Linked DNA regions of Homo sapiens: region 2 is linked to region 1. The links come from fine-mapping of genetic effects on gene expression. A gene starts in region 1. The other region holds a variant in brackets. All regions are shown on one strand. Distances are from middle to middle.

Region 1 (8,307 bases):
ATACACCACTGGGTCGTGAGGCGTTCCCTCGGACCAGATGACTCAGAAAGCACAATGCAGCCCTGGTCACAGATGGCTCTGCCTAATAAGCTGGCACCACCCCGAAGTGGGCGCCCCAGCACGGCAGCGCCACCTGGGTGTGGGAGGCCAGGCCTGCACGACAGGTGCAAAGGCAGGTCCTCACCTGGGTGTGGGAGGCCAGGCCTGCACGACAGGTGCAAAGGCAGGTCCTCGCAGGGCCGAGCAGCAAGCAGGATGGAGGAGGAGGCAGAGTTCCGTGGACGCCCCGGCCACGGCCGACCGTCTAGCTGATGGCCAGGCACTTGGAGGGGCACGATTACAAAGTTAGAGATGAAACGGTCGGGGTGAAGGTATGTAGACAGACCTCTTGGGGTGGGCAGAGCATAAAGAATTTGTGTGCAAAGACCTGTCTCAGCAGAGGAGGGACCCTAATAGTCAGACGGACAAAATGACCCATTTGTGCGCATCAGGCAGCCTCTTTCCCCAGCTCCCCTTGTCCTGAGTCGGGCCAAGTGGCTGTAGCAGTGGGAAGCGGATTACCCTGGGCACCGCGCAGCCAACAGCGGAGACCAACACTGGCCCCTTCCTCCACCATGGAGGATGCTTGTCCCAGCAGGATGGGCTCCCACCCCAGCTGTGGATGGTCAGTGCCCTCAATGCCTCTGCCCAAACCACCACCCCACACATTCAGAGCTCCTCGTCCACCCACGGGGTGCTCCTCATGGCGGCATCGCCATTGTCCTGGGGACAGCAACCGGCCGGTGCTCCTGGAACCCACAGATCTCGCCGTGTTCCTGATGGAATGGCCTTTGGGAGGCTCAGTTTTGGCACCAGCTGAGTGACAATGCTGTGGATCTGGGGTCCTCTGGATGCAGCGGATCCACTGAATCAGCACTTAATCTCTGGCTTTTCCCAAAGCCGGGGCTCACTGGTCCAGGCGTGGAGGAGTGGAAACCCCAACTTCTTCCCATTGTCGTTAATCCCCAGTGAGCCACAAGTGAAAGTTTTGCCCCCTGCAGTGTTGCACGCTGTTGGTCTAGAGGCCTCAGATTCCCAGGGACCAACTCATCCCAGTTTGCTTAAGACTTTGCCGGTCTTATTTTCATTTTTTTATTTTTTATTTTTTTGAGGCTCAGTTTTGCTCTTGTTGCCCAGGCTGGAGTGCAATGGCACGATCTCGGCTCACCACAACCTCCGCCTCCTGGGTTCAAGCAATTCTCCTGCCTCAGCCTTCCTAGTAGCTGGGATTGCAGGCATGCACCACCATGCCCAGCTAATTTTTTATTTTTAGTAGAGACGGGGTTTCTCCATGTTGGTTAGGCTGGTCTCGAACTTCCAACCTCAGGTAATCCACCTGCCTCAGCGTCCCAAAGTGCTGAGATTACAGGCGTGAGCCACCGCGCCCAGCCGACTTTCCCAGGTTTAAAACGGAAAGTTCCATGTCCTAGGAATCCCCTCGGTCCTGGGAAAGCCCTGGAGTGTTTCCACCAGGGGACACGTTACGCAGGAAGCTGAGACTGCCCACCTGGACGCCGGTTCCTCACACCAGGGGGTCGACAAAGAAGAGGGTCCCTGTGCTGGTCCGGCTGACTGAGCCCAACAAGGGGAACTTGGAACCTGATCACAGAATGGGGCTAAGGGGGAGAAATTTGGGAGGCAGGAGATCGTCTGTAATATCACGTAGCTCCTCTAAGCCTTGCAGAAAACACCACTGGAAAACCAGAACCACCCCATAAGGCAAAACTGCTAACAGCATAGGCCTTTTGGGAAGGAACGTTTGGGTCACCCCACCAGACAGTGAACCACGACCAGCAGAGGTGCTTGCAGAGGGCAAAGGGACCACGCAGGAGTGACGGAAGAGCGTGGCCATAAAGACTGTACCAGCCACGACCTGGTGACCGTAGAAGTGAGTACTTCTTATCCTCACACAAGTCACACTTGTACTGACATTATCCGTTCTTCCTGCTTTTTTCCTCTTCCATTGCCCTCCTAGCTGCATAAAATGCGTTAACAACAGTTAACTTTACATTTCATCTCAGTATTTGTGTCATCCAACCCCCAACATGCACTTTGCAGTGTCAAGTGTTAAACGCTCTTAGAGAAACTAGAAGAACGAGGATCGTCTTCTCAAATGTGGATAACATGACACGAACCTTTTGTTCAGTCCCTTCTGGTTGGAATATTTGCATCATGTTACGTAGAAGCATGACTTTGTTTTTTGCTTTATTTGGAAGTTAAATGTGTTTTTTAAAAGAAGTGTGCGTCTGTGCTGAGTTGTCAAGAGGAGGAACCTGCCAGGTTGTTCTCTCTTTTTTTTTTTTGAGACCGAGTCTCGCTCTGTCACCCAGGCTGGAGTGCAGTGGCGCGATCTCGGCTCACTGCAAGCTCCGCCTCCCGGGTTCACGCCATTCTCCTGCCTCAGCCTCCGAGTAGCTGGGACTACAGGCGCCCGCCGCCACGCCCGGCTAATTTTTTGTATTTTCAGTACAGACAGGGTTTCACCGTGTTAGCCAGGATGGTCTCGATCTCCTGACCTCGTGATCCGCCCGCCTCGGCCTCCCAAAGTGCTGGGATTACAGGCGTGAGCCACCGCGCCCGGCCAGGTTGTTCTCTTATTCTAAGCTGGAGACCCATTTCCCAGAACCTTCTCCTCTGTGGCTGGGTCACACCGAAGTGAGGCGGTGGCCGTTCTTCTCCAGAAGGGGCCGAGACGGATGTGGTAGCATATGGAGCATCTGCGTCCGGCAGATCCCAGCTCGCCCCTCAATTGTACCTACTATGCTTTGGATCCACAGGGGACACCCTCTGACTGTGGACCCATGAAGTGTCCCAAACACGTCTCTCCCGACATTGCCAACACTTGCCTTCTAAGAACCTGTTTACGGGTCAGGCCAGCCGTTGCCTCCCCAGAGAGCGACCCTGGAGCGGGAGCCGGCCTCCCTCCATCACCCAGCTCATCTCCTTCACGTCACTCACCACCAGCAAAGCGACTATGCGTTCACTGGTCTGTCCCTGCCTAGTAACATGTAAACTCCATGAAAGGAGGGCCCTTTTCTGTCTTGCTCACTGCTGTGTCCCCTAAGTCCCTGGCTCGTCAGGACACTAGAATACTAGGTAGCGTCCACTGGCTGGATGAATGTGCCTAGGATGGGGTGCCATGCAGTGGAAAGAGGGAAAGCATTAGACGCACAGCCAGACAGATGCACATAGAAAATATGGGACTTGGAGAAACAGAATGAGACACATAAAAGAGCACCACTGGCCGGGCACAGTGGCTCACGCCTGGAATCCCAGCACTTTGGGAGGCCAAGGCGGGAGGATCACTTGAGCCCAGGAGTTCAACGCCAGCCCGGGACACATGGTGAGACCCTGAATCTGTTAAAAAAAAAAATACAAAAAATTAGTCCGGCATGGTGATGCATGCCTGTAGTCCCAGCTCCTCAAGAACCTGAAGTGGGAGGATCGCTTGAGCCCAGGAGGTCAAGGCTGCTGTGAGCTGAGATTGCACCACTGCACTCTAGCCTCAGAGACACAGTGAGACCCTGTCTCAAAAAGGGGTGGGGCACTATATTTTAATGAATATGCAGATAACAGAAATATGAAAAGTGGACTGCAGGAGGCAGGAGATGAGGAGCTGATGGGGTGGGGGAAGGTTTGAGAGACCGGGTGTTGTTTAAGGGCCGGTATGAACAGCAGGATGTAACCAGCTTGCTTCTGTGCTCAGAAGTTAGGGGAGGAGGATGGAGGGGAAGGAGGGAAGGAGTTGAGGTCTTAAGAAGGCAACTTCTGGGCAATCTTCCATTGTGAGGTGGGGTCCACGTCCCCACAACCCACGAACTTGGGTGGCCGTGCGGCATGTGGCAAACCTGAGGGGTGACTCCAAGATGCTTCACTCTGTGTGCTGGACCGGGAGGCTGCCCCTGGCAGCTGAGCCTGCAGGCGCTCTGGCCAACCACCCGGGGTGAGCCCAGCCATTCCTGCCGAGGGTGCACTGGCTTGGGGCAGAAGTCTCTGGATGGCTCCAGCCTGTCCCGCGGAGCCGGCCCCACCACTCACGTCTTCCCACCGGAGGCCAGCACCTCGAGGAGCAGAGAGGAGCTGTCCCCGAGTGCCCTGAGTTCCTGACCCACAGGACACAGGAACACAGGAACGCTGCTGTTGGACAGCACTGAAGCTGGGCGGTTTGCTACACACCCAGAGACAGCTGAGCAGACAGAGGGAGAAGAGTAGGGTCACGCTGGCAGCTGGACAAGGGAAGTACTGGGGGGACAGAGGGACTGGCAGGGGTTGGTGCAGACCAGGTGAGAAAGGGCACGAAGTGGGACAAGGTCCCGGTGAGAGGCACGACACTGTCACCTGCCTCAGGCCGCGCTCGGTGGGGCGGGGGCCACCAGCTGAGGCCCCTCCTGCCGCCCAGACAGCTCGGCCCCCTGCGGCCCCAGCCCTGCAGGCTGAGATCCCGCAACGACTCCCACCCCTGGGCTGAAGCCGGTGCTTGGGCCCCCCCGCCCCCCGGCCTCTCTCGCCCGCCCCCATTCCCCGCCCCCCAGGACCCCGGGTCCCTCCCCTCCCTCCTCCGTGTTGTCCGCCTGCAGTCCTTCGGGTCACTGTTCTCGGGAGGCCGCCCCGCCCCACAGTCAGGCTGTGCCCATCCCCCGCCGCCCCCCACGGTCCCCGAGCCCCAGCGCTTCCCAGCCCCGCGTCTGTGTGCCGCGCCCCCGCGCTCCGTGGCCCAGGTGGACGCGCGCCCCGCGCCCCGCATCCCTGTCCGTCCCGCACCCCTCACCCCCCGCCCCGCACCCTCCGCACCCCCCGCCCCGCCCCGCCTCCCCTCGCCCCGCCTCCTCCGCCCCGCACCCCGCGCCCCGCCCCGCCTTCCCGCGCCCCGCACCCCTCCCCGCGCGCCGCCATTGGCTCCCCGCGGCCTGGCTCGGTCCGATTGGTTCCGCGCGCGCGGCCGGGGCCCGATCCGCGGTGGCAGCCGTGGATGCTGTTCGGTCCCGCCGCCGCCCCAGGAGCGCGGAGCCGGGAGCGGCCGGGCGGGGGGCACCGCGAGGAGCCGCCCCCGCCGCCCACCCCGGGCCCGCGGCCGAGGGCGGCCTGGGGGGGTCGCGGCCGCACCCGGTGGCCGCGCACGGCGGACAAAGGACCATGCGGGGCCGCGGGCGCTGAGCGCGGCGGGGCGGGCCGGGGATGCGGCGCGGGGCGGGCGGGGGCCGGGGGCTGCAGCGGCGCCGCTGAGCGCGGCCTGGGGCGGGCGCGGCGGCCGCGATGCCGCGGCTCCCGGTGAAGAAGATCCGTAAGCAGATGAAGCTGCTGCTGCTGCTGCTGCTGCTGAGCTGCGCCGCGTGGCTCACCTACGTGCACCTGGGCCTGGTGCGCCAGGGACGCGCGCTGCGCCAGCGCCTGGGCTACGGGCGAGGTACGGCGCGGGGGGCGCGGGGGGCGCGGGGGGCGGGGGCGGCGCGGGGGGCGCGGGGGGCGCGGGCGGCGCGGGGGGCGCGGGCGGCGCGGGCGGCGGGGGCCCCGGGGCGCGGGCCGGGCCTCCCACCGCACAGAGGTCTCGGCTGGGCCCGACCCTCCCGGAGACCCCGCCCGCTGTTCTCCGCTCTGCGATTTGGGGGGAGGGGGCGCGGTTCGGCTCGGCCCGGACGCTCGATGACGTCGGCAGTGACGCGCGCGACCCTCCCAGAGAGGGTCCCTGACTCTGGGATCTGGCTTGGATCCGGTAGTGAGGGGCTGACGGTGGGCTCCTGGGGAAGTCTCTGCCCCTAGACCCTGCTGAGGCTTCCAAGAGGCCTTCTCAGGCCTCGCCTCCACCCCCTGCCCGCTTAGCAGGGCCTCAGTTTCCCTGTGTGCTGGGGACCCGGGCCGGGGCTTGCTGAAGTGGCCGGTGCAGCTGGGACGCTTCCCGGCGGGGGCGCCTTCGGTGAACTGTGCCAGTGTTGTGGGGGTCCATGCGTAGGGATGGGGCCCAGCTTGGGGAGCCTGGCGTAAACTCTCCCAACCCCAACCCACAAACAAAGCAGATGGGGTCACGGTGAGCCAGCCGGGGTAGGGCCTCCTGGAGATGGTGATCTTTGACATACACCTTTGGGGGAAAGAGCATTCCAGACAGGAAGGCGCAGATGAAAGCCTGGCGGTGGGGTTGGGGGAGAAGGTGGGGCAGAATGCCCCCTCTGGAGGAGGGAGGTTAGTGCCATGCCCAGACCAGGAGAGACCCCAGCTGGCTGCCTCTGAGCCTTTTCCAGGGAGCCAGGTGTCCTGAGGGGGCAGAACAATGATACTGGCTGGGGACTCCTGGGCCACTCCACCTGCCAAAGCCCCTGTGTTCTCTTCCTGTACCGGGACGCCTGGACCCACACAGGCCAAGGGTCTGGGGCTTGTCCCAACCCACATACCTCACAGCTTCCACACCCTCAAGAGACCCCCGATACTGCTGAATCCCTAAAAAGCCCCACCCCAGCTATCAGCAGACAGGGCAGGATCCACAGCTGGCCCAGTGACACAGAACAAAACCAGCCCCCTCTGCAGGCTCCTCTGTGGTTTTCTGAGCAGCGCAGGGGTCTAAGCCCAACCAGGAGGGGGCGGAGGCATAGGGACCCCTCTTCCAAGGACCCCTTGAGGCTAAGCCAGCTCCGCCCCAGGGCACCTGTACACTTGCTACCTCTGAGGCTAGGGCCAGGACCAGAGGAGCCCAACAGCTGCCCAGGGAGAGGGCGAGTGAGCAGACTGTTCTGTCGGGGGACCTGGGGCCCAAGTCAGGGGAGCCCTGGGGGACCCTTCCCAGATCTGCCTGTGGACATCTCTACTGCCTCCCCACAAGCCTGGGCAGGCCAGCTCTGCACCCCAGCCCTCTCCACTTCCTGGACCTCCCTAAGCTGAGGACCTAGACATCCCCACTGCAGCCCCAGGGGGTTCCACGCCCTGGGATCTGAGCATCTGTAGGGATGCTTCTCTTCACCCCAATTCTGCCCCTCCTGGTCCTCCTACCCAAGGACACTCAATCCAGGGCCACCCTCTGCTCCAGGGCCATGCCTGGGCGTCAGCATCCATGCCTGTTCCTCAGTCCAGACTTTGAGAGCTCAAATCCTTCAGGAGAGACTACAGTCCCTGGCACTAACCCTGAGTTCTCAGTTCTGGTAAGGGAGGCAGACGTGGAACACTCCAGCACACAGAGAAAGTGCTGAGGGCACAGGGCAGTCCTGGGGTCTTCCTGGAGGCAGAGCCACTCAACAAGAATGGCCAGATGGAGGTGCATGTGGGTGCCTACACACGCCAGCTGGCCCACCCGGCTTTCCTCCCTCACACCTGCTGGAGGTTGGGAAGAGCCTGCTGGAAGGCTCAGCCTGGGCTGCCCCACCAGAGGTGGGGTGTAGAAGAAGTTGCCTTGCTGGGGGGAGGGGCATCTGGTGGCAGAGGAAGCAGATGAGAAGGAGAGGCTTTAGTGAGAGACACCACAGCCTGCCTGCCCTGCTCTGGCCATGTGGGTCCCTGGCCCAGCTGAACCCAGCAGCAGGCAGAATGGCCTTGGAGAGAGCCTGGGCCCGAGACAGGCCTCATGTGCCACCTGCAGATGGTGAGAAGCTGACCAGTGAGACCGACGGCCGGGGGGTCCACGCTGCGCCATCCACACAGAGGGCTGAGGACTCCAGTGAGAGCCGTGAAGAGGAGCAAGCGGTGAGCAGAGCCCTGGGGAGAACACGTGTGCACGGAGACGAGACCCCGAAGCCACTTGTGTGTTGGTGTCTTGAGAACCTGTCCATTCTGGAGGACGCAGCAGGGGGCATGAGACACAGGACATGTGGGGCACGGCACAGCTTGTCTGTGTGAGCTCCAGCACCAGCCATCCTGTCTGGAGCTCTGTGTCTGGGGGCTGCAGCAGGTGCATGAATGTGCCGGCCGGTCAGTGTGTGGGGTGGCCAAGCATCTGCTTGGGCTAGAGTGACCAGGGTGTCTGAGTGTATGTGCCAGGTGCCACAGGTCAGGGTTTGCATGGCTGGGGCTCACGGGCATTTAGGGCTGTGTGGATACATGTTGGAAGGGGTCTTTGTGAAGGTTTGTCTTGGTGTGTGTGACCTCCTCCCTGCCCTTCCAACCCTGACCCTGTTGCCTTTTCTCTCCTGCAGCCCGAAGGTCGGGACCTAGACATGCTGTTTCCTGGGGGGGCTGGGAGGCTGCCACTGAACTTCACCCATCAGACACCCCCATGGCGGGAGGAGGTGAGCTGGCTCGGCCTGTAATGGGCTGGGAGGCAGGGCGGGGGCTGGGGCGGGGGGGCGGCGG
Region 2 (8,255 bases), 35 kb after region 1:
ACCTGTCCTTCCTCCACCTGCGCCCCTCTGCCTATCCCCCCTGCCTTCCTCCCCACCTGCCCCCCTCCACCTGCCCACCATCTGCCCCCCTTCTCCACCTGCCCCCTCTGCCACCTGCCCCCCTACTCCTCCTCCCCCCCTCTGCCTTACCCCCCCACCTGCCCGCCATCTGCCCCACTCCTCCACCTGCCCCCTCCTCCACCTGCCCCCTCTGCCTGTCCCCTACTCCTCCTGTCCTCCCTCTGTGTCCCCCCCACCTGGCCCCCCTCCTCCACCTGCCCCCTCTGCCTATCCCCCACCTGTCCCCCCCTCCACCTGTCCCCCTTTTCTGCCTGTCCCCCTCCTCCTGTCCCTCCTCTGCCTGTCCTCTCTCCTCCGTTCTGACCCCTCCACCTCATTCGGTTCCCCTCCGTCCCTTTGTACCTTTTGCCGGCCGTGTTTCTACTTGGGCCTCCACTGCCCGCCTCTTTCCTGGACCCCCGGCCACCCTGTCCTGTGGTTTTGTCTCCTTGGAGCCGCCTGCACTGCCAGGCCTGCTCACCACCCCACCCCCACATCTTGTCCCCTCTTGCTTGGTCCCAGCTCTATCACCTCAAATGCCACCCCAGGGTCTCCCCAGTGGGGCTCGTGGGTGAGGCACAGAACACCAGGCCAGCCCCTGGGGAGAGGCGGGACCTCTTCACACCATCCCCAGAAACGCGGAGGGGGTTGGAGGGCAGACGCTGATAGCAGCCTCCCCCGTCCTCCAGGGATCCTGTGGAACCTTTCATCCAGCGACCACCTGAAGGACCGCCTGGCCAGAGACACGCTGGAGCAGCTCACAGACCTGGTGTTGAGCCCCCTGTCGGGGGCTGGGGGTCCCCCCCTCATCCAGCAGAACGCCTCGGAGGCAGAGATCTTCTACAACGCCACCGGCTTCCTCAGGTGCGCCAGCCTCGGGCAGCGGGGTGGGGATTGCAGGCGCGGGTCACTGTGGGGACTCCGCCTGGCCTGGCGTTCGCAGCCCACACACCGCACGCCTCGCGCTGGGGATGGGCGTGCGAGGGCCCACGATGGGTTGGGGCAAGGCCCGGGATGCGGGGTCCCTGGGGGGCTCTGATCCACCTCGGTCCCCAGGAACCTCAGCTCAGCCTCTCAGGCCACTCGCCAGAAGATGCGGGAGTGCCACGGGCTGGTGGACGCCCTGGTCACCTCTATCAACCACGCCCTGGACGCGGGCAAATGCGAGGACAAGGTGAGGGGCGCGGTGTGGAGGAGGGGCCGTGCCCCCGGGCCGCCGCTCTGACCCGCGCCCCTGCCCCGCGCCCCCGCCCGCAGAGCGTGGAGAACGCGGTGTGCGTCCTGCGGAACCTGTCCTACCGCCTCTACGACGAGATGCCGCCGTCCGCGCTGCAGCGGCTGGAGGGTCGCGGCCGCAGGGACCTGGCGGGGGCGCCGCCGGGAGAGGTCGTGGGCTGCTTCACGCCGCAGAGCCGGCGGCTGCGCGAGGTGGGCACCAGCCTGAGCGGGGCGTGGGGTGGGTGCTGCGACCCCGGCCCCGCTGACCCCGGCCCCGCTCACCCCCGCCCCGCTCACCCCCGCCCCGCTCACCCCGCCCCGCTCACCCCGGACCCCGCTCACCCCCGCCCCGCTCACCCCCGACCCCGCTCACACCCGCCCCGCTCACCCCCGCCCCGCTCACCCCCGCCCCGCTCACCCCGGACCCCGCTCACCCCCGCCCCGCTCACCCCCGGCCCCGCTCACACCCGCCCCGCTCACCCCCGCCCCGCTCACCCCGGACCCCGCTCACCCCGGACCCCGCTCACACCCGCCCCGCTCACACCCGGCCCCGCTCACCCCCGCCCCGCTCACCCCCGGCCCGCTCACACCCGGCCCCGCTCACACCCGGCCCCGCTCACACCCGCCCCGCTCACCCCCGGCCCCGCTCACACCTGCCCCGCTCACACCCGGCCCCGCTCACACCCGGCCCCGCTCACACCCGGCCCGCTCACACCCGCCCCGCTCACCCCCGGCCCCGCTCACACCCGGCCCCGTTCACACCCGCCCCGCTCACACCCGCCCCGCTCACCCCCGGCCCGCTCACACCCGCCCCGCTCACCCCCGGCCCGCTCACACCCGGCCCCGCTCACACCCGGCCCCGCTCACACCCGCCCCGCTCACCCCCGGCCCCGCTCACACCCGCCCCGCTCACACCCGGCCCCGCTCACACCCGGCCCGCTCACACCCGCCCCGCTCACACCCGCCCCGCTCACACCCGCCCCGCTCACCCCCGGCCCCGCTCACCCCCGGCCCCGTTCACACCCGCCCCGCTCACACCCGCCCCGCTCACCCCCGGCCCGCTCACCCCCGGCCCCGCTCACACCCGGCCCCGCTCACACCCGCCCCGCTCACACCCGGCCCCGCTCACACCCGGCCCCGCTCACACCCGGCCCCGCTCACACCCGCCCCGCTCACCCCCGCCCCGCTCACCCCCGGCCCCGCTCACCCCCGGCCCCGCTCACCCCCGACCCCGCTCACCCCCGACCCCGCTCACCCCCGCCCCGCTCACCCCCGCCCCGCTCACCCCCGACCCCCGGCCCCGCTCACCCCCGACCCCCGGCCCCGCTCACCCCCGGCTCCACTGACCCCGGCCCCGCTCACCCCGGACCCCGCTCACCCCCGACCCCCGGCCCCGCTCACCCCCGGCTCCACTGACCCCGGCCCCGCTCACCCCGGACCCCGCTCACCCCCGACCCCCGGCCCCGCTCACCCCCGACCCCCGGCCCCGCTCACCCCCGGCTCCACTGACCCCGGCCCCGCTCACCCCGGACCCCGCTCACCCCCGACCCCCGGCCCCGCTCACCCCCGGCTCCACTGACCCCGGCCCCGCTCACCCCGGACCCCGCTCACCCCCGACCCCCGGCCCCGCTCACCCCCGGCTCCACTGACCCCGGCCCCGCTCACCCCGACCCCGCTCACCCCAGACCCCCGGCCCCGCTCACCCCCGGCTCCACTGACCCCGGCCCCGCTCACCCCGGACCCCGCTCACCCCCGACCCCCGGCCCCGCTCACCCCCGGCTCCACTGACCCCGGCCCCGCTCACCCCGGACCCCGCTCACCCCCGACCCCCGGCCCCGCTCACCCCCGACCCCCGGCCCCGCTCACCCCCGGCTCCACTGACCCCGGCCCCGCTCACCCCGGACCCCGCTCACCCCCGACCCCCGGCCCCGCTCACCCCCGGCTCCACTGACCCCGGCCCCGCTCACCCCGGACCCCGCTCACCCCCGACCCCCGGCCCCGCTCACCCCCGGCTCCACTGACCCCGGCCCCGCTCACCCCGACCCCGCTCACCCCCGACCCCCGGCCCCGCTCACCCCCGGCCCCGCTCACCCCGACCCCGCTCACCCCCGACCCCCGGCCCCGCTCACCCCCGACCCGCTCACCCCGACCCCGCTCACCCCCGACCCCCGGCCCCGCTCACCCCCGACCCGCTCACCCCGACCCCGCTCACCCCCGCCCCGCTCACCCCTGCCCCGCTCACCCCGGGCCCCGCTCACCCCCGGCCCCGCTCACCCCGACCCCGCTCACCCCCGACCCCCGGCCCCGCTCACCCCCGGCCCCGCTCACCCCCGCCCCGCTCACCCCCGCCCCGCTCACCCCGGGACCCGCTCACCCCGACCCCGCTCACCCCGGACCCCGCTCACCCCCGCCCCGCTCACCCCGGACCCCGCTCACCCCCGACCCCCGGCCCCGCTCACCCCCGCCCCGCTCACCCCGGACCCCGCTCACCCCCGCCCCACTCACACCCGACCCGCTCACCCCGACCCGCTCACCCCGACCCGCTCACCCCGACCCCGCCGACTCCTCCCCGCCCTGCGCAGCTGCCCCTCGCCGCCGATGCGCTCACCTTCGCGGAGGTGTCCAAGGACCCCAAGGGCCTCGAGTGGCTGTGGAGCCCCCAGATCGTGGGGCTGTACAACCGGCTGCTGCAGCGCTGCGAGCTCAACCGGCACACGACGGAGGCGGCCGCCGGGGCGCTGCAGAACATCACGGCAGGCGACCGCAGGGTGGGGCACCCAACCCAGACCCGAGGGGGTCCCAGGGGTTCATGCGGTTGAGGGGGGGACAGAGGAGGGAGAGGGAGGGGAGGAGGAAGGGGACGCCCAGGGTCCGCGGAGCCTCGGAGGTCAGCGTCCCGGTGGCGCAGGCCTTGGGCCTTGGGAGGATGGAAGTCCTGCCCTGGGTTTGAAGGGAGGCACCTGATCCGGGCTGCGGCTGATTCCCCCCGGCTGGGGGGCAAAGGCAGAAGCAGAGGCCCCCCTGAGGGTGGCGAGAGGATGCAGCGACC[C/T]CATTGTGGCAGGACCCCCTCAGGTGAGGGTCTGAGGCCTCCGGGTCACGGCTCACACCCTCCCTCCCCACAGTGGGCGGGGGTGCTGAGCCGCCTGGCCCTGGAGCAGGAGCGTATTCTGAACCCCCTGCTAGACCGTGTCAGGACCGCCGACCACCACCAGCTGCGCTCACTGACTGGCCTCATCCGAAACCTGTCTCGGAACGCTAGGAACAAGGACGAGATGTGTGAGTCGGGCAGCCCCTCGTCCCTGCCCTGCTGGACCCACATGTCAATTTTGTCTTTAAGTGTGGGCTTCAGACCACTGGGGCCAGTCCAGCTCCCTGGGGGAGGCAGGGGACCCCAGGTGCCCAGGTGGCCAGGAGTAGGGGTGCAGACTGACCCCCGGCCTCCCACAGCCACGAAGGTGGTGAGCCACCTGATCGAGAAGCTGCCGGGCAGCGTGGGTGAGAAGTCGCCCCCAGCCGAGGTGCTGGTCAACATCATAGCTGTGCTCAACAACCTGGTGGTGGCCAGCCCCATCGCTGCCCGAGACCTGCTGTATTTTGACGGACTCCGAAAGCTCATCTTCATCAAGAAGAAGCGGGACAGGTAGGGGCCGACCCAGCCGTGCAGCAGCCTGGTCAGGGGTCCTCCCAGTCCACCCTGCTTTCTGGCTGTGTGTCCCCTCCTGACTGCCCTCCACCCTCAGCCCCGACAGTGAGAAGTCCTCCCGGGCAGCATCCAGCCTCCTGGCCAACCTGTGGCAGTACAACAAGCTCCACCGTGACTTCCGGGCGGTACGTTTCCCGAGCCCAGGGCAAGCAGGGACCCGGGTGCAGGGCATGGGACGCCGGGGGAGGGTCAGTGAAGAGGCCCATGGGAGGATGGAGACCAGGGACCCAGAGAGGAAGGGTCCGGGCCACACCCAGCACACTGCAGGAGGGACAGCGGGCAGAGGGCCACATGGGCAGACATGCACCCTGACCTTGGGCCTCTCTCCACTGTAGAAGGGCTATCGGAAGGAGGACTTCCTGGGCCCATAGGTGAAGCCTTCTGGAGGAGAAGGTGACGTGGCCCAGCGTCCAAGGGACAGACTCAGCTCCAGGCTGCTTGGCAGCCCAGCCTGGAGGAGAAGGCTAATGACGGAGGGGCCCCTCGCTGGGGCCCCTGTGTGCATCTTTGAGGGTCCTGGGCCACCAGGAGGGGCAGGGTCTTATAGCTGGGGACTTGGCTTCCGCAGGGCAGGGGGTGGGGCAGGGCTCAAGGCTGCTCTGGTGTATGGGGTGGTGACCCAGTCACATTGGCAGAGGTGGGGGTTGGCTGTGGCCTGGCAGTATCTTGGGATAGCCAGCACTGGGAATAAAGATGGCCATGAACAGTCACTGCCCTGTGTCCTTCCATGGCTGGCCCGACCCTGTGGCTGGCAGCATGATCCTGGGACTCAAGGTGTCCCCAGGCACCCCCTGCCCCTGAGGACACCCACCCCCTGGGCTCACACACAAGCCTCCCAAGATCAGAGGACATAGGACATGGAGAGCCCAGCAGAGGGACAGCTGGCACCTCAGGGCCGAGAGGGGACAGGGTGGACAGCGGGTGCACCACAGGCACAGACGGAGCAGAGCTGGGGGCCTCGAGAGTAGAGGGGTGACTGGAGTAGGAACAGGGTGGCTGCCTCGTGGGCTACACTCATGCGGCAAATGAACCCAACTCCTCCGCCGCCCACCCTGGGCCTGGAGTTGCCTGGACCAGGGGCTCTCACACTGGCTGCCTGAGGTTTGGGGTCCAGTGGGCTCTCGGACACCCCCATCCATCTCACCCAGAGCCAGGCCATTTAGTTGTGAAGTTACTGTGGATATTCTTAAAACAGAAAGTTTCTGTGAAGCTCAGAACTTGAGGTCTCTAAGGAGCCTGCCCCCATCCAGGATCTGCCTGCATGGGAAGGGTCTAGGAAGAGTCACGTCCCCAACCAGGGACCAGGCAAGGAGGCCCAAGGAGGCTACTGTAAGCACGGGACACGCCTGAGCTGGCTTAGGAAGGGGGATGGAGAGAGGGCAGATTTGGTGATTTGGCGGGTGGGGATGAGAGAGGGAGGGGTGGGGATGAGAGAGGAGGGGTGGAAGGCTGAGAGAGCCGCAGAGGGAAGCCGAATCCGAAACCTTCCGCCGCAAGGGAGGAGACCGAGGCCCCAGCAGAATCCAAAAGGACTTTATTTTCTGGCACTGGGAGGCGCCCTGAGGCCACAGCCTTTTCCCAGGGCTGCTGGCAGGGTCCCAGGGCTGCTGGCAGGGGTTGTGGTCCTGTTGAGCAGAGGAGCGACGCCGCTGCCCTGGCCCCCGCTGTCCCTATGATCCTGCACTCTGGGGTGGGAGCTACATATCATCCTTGGACACCAGGCAGTAGAAGTCTGTGCGGGCACTGTAGTTTCGCGAGCCGAGATCCGAGACGTCCACTTCGCTGCTCCGGCTCTCTCCCAGCGAGACCCCACTGGTGTGCGGTGGAGCTGATGGCTCTCCAAAGACAGGCCCCCGGACACCTGGGGTGGGGAGACCGAGACGCCTGAGGTGGCCACCCACAGCCTTGGCCCAGACCCACTGCCAGGGGCTGCCCCTGCTCACCCCCTGCTGTGATGGCCTGTGAGGCCCAGGAAGTTCCCAGGCAGACCGAGGGCCGAGCACCTCCAGGGCAGAGGCCGTGCAGGGGCTCCCGGTGCCGGGAAGAGTCCTCAACACCTGGAGCCCCTCCAGGCCCTGTGCCCTGTGCCTGCCCCCACTCCGCCCTGTGCTGAGCTTCTCCAGTTGGGGAGTGGGGCTGGGCGGGCATACCCAGGTCGCCCTCAGGGTCCGGGTCCACCTCTGAGTCCAGGGCCCGGCCCTCAGGGACTCGGCCTCGAAGAATCAGCATGGGGTCCTTGTCGTCCTGCAGCTGCGTCTGGGGGTCTCCTTCCACAGGCCTGTACTGCACCTTCCGCGGCAGCGCCAGCTGCACTTCTTTCCAAAAATCGGAGGAAGGAGTCTGGGGGCCAGGTCGGGGCGGTTTGCAGGTGTGAACACCTCGGAAGCCCCTGGCGTCCTGGCCCCCAAGAGCACACCTGCGGCTGCCCACGGGTTCCACGCCCTGCGACAGCTATTCCGTGGCTCCGGGGGCCTCAAGGGCGGCTCCCCGCATCGGGGCCCCAGGCAGCGGAACCTCCCCCCAGGGCCCATTCACAAAGCGTGGTGCCGCAGAGCTCCCCACGGAGGGGTCCCAGCCTGGAGCCCGGGCACCGCCCATCTCTAACCCGCCGCTAGCCCCGGACCCTCCCGCGCCTGCTCCGCACCACGGAGCCGGGCCTCCAGAGCAGCAAGGTCACCAGGTGGCGGTGCTGGCGCAGCAGGCGGAGCGCCGGGTGCGCGGGGTCGCGCCTCTGGCCCTCGAAGGTGATGAAGATGGGTCTGCGGGTGAGCTCCAGCAGCCGGCACAGGCCCTCCCTGCGGGGCGGGACCGTCAGGGGGGTGGGTGCTACGCTGGGGCCCACCCAACCCCGCGCGGGACCCACCGGAAGCTGTGGCTGCACCAGGCCCGGCTCAGGAAGGCGTCCGAAAGCACCACGATGAGGCGTCGGCAGCGGCTCAGGTTCACCAAGAGGTCGGCGGAGGGCTCTGCGGGAGGGCGGGCGTCGGCGGCGCAGGGGCGGGGGCGGGGGAGGGCGGGGCCGGAGGCTCAGGGGCGGTGCCGGACGCAGAGCTCTAAGGGAGGGGCGGGGCCTGCGGGGTGGGCGGGTTTTTGAGGCGGGGCCTCGGGTGGGCGGGGATGGGGGCGGAGCTCGATGGTGGGGGTGGGGCCCCGGGTGGGACGGAGCATGGGGCGGGGCGGGGCGGGCCCTCCGGGTGGGCGGGGCACGGGGTGGGGCCCGGGATACCAGCGCGCGGCAGGAGGTCGCGGTCGTCCAGGAAGAGCTTGTAGCCCC

What was found. PIP is the estimated chance that this variant, and not a neighbour inherited with it, causes the effect.
Region 2: its variant is fine-mapped to the expression of B4GALNT4 in whole blood (INTERVAL, PIP 0.97).

The regions. Positions count from the first base shown.
Region 1 is chr11:364,512-372,818 of GRCh38, forward strand. B4GALNT4 (beta-1,4-N-acetyl-galactosaminyltransferase 4) reads left to right here and starts at 4,988. Exons shown (of 20, transcript NM_178537.5): 1 at 4,988-5,443; 2 at 7,598-7,701; 3 at 8,151-8,243. The coding sequence starts at 5,293. RefSeq lists an enhancer at 3,521-4,059.
Region 2 is chr11:399,218-407,472 of GRCh38, forward strand. It overlaps PKP3 (plakophilin 3), which reads left to right. Exons shown (of 13, transcript NM_007183.4): 6 at 750-924; 7 at 1,117-1,234; 8 at 1,318-1,488; 9 at 3,861-4,046; 10 at 4,401-4,554; 11 at 4,726-4,918; 12 at 5,019-5,106; 13 at 5,317-5,691. The coding sequence ends at 5,352. It overlaps SIGIRR (single Ig and TIR domain containing), which reads right to left. Exons shown (of 10, transcript NM_001135054.2): 6 at 8,208-8,255; 7 at 7,845-7,947; 8 at 7,626-7,776; 9 at 7,132-7,321; 10 at 6,499-6,842. The coding sequence ends at 6,679. Among named protein-coding and RNA genes, the nearest start is that of PKP3, 9.1 kb to the left of the region's middle. RefSeq lists an enhancer at 6,305-6,998 and silencers at 7,575-7,624, 7,635-7,894, 7,965-8,024. The variant C/T (reference allele first, on the strand shown) is at 4,328.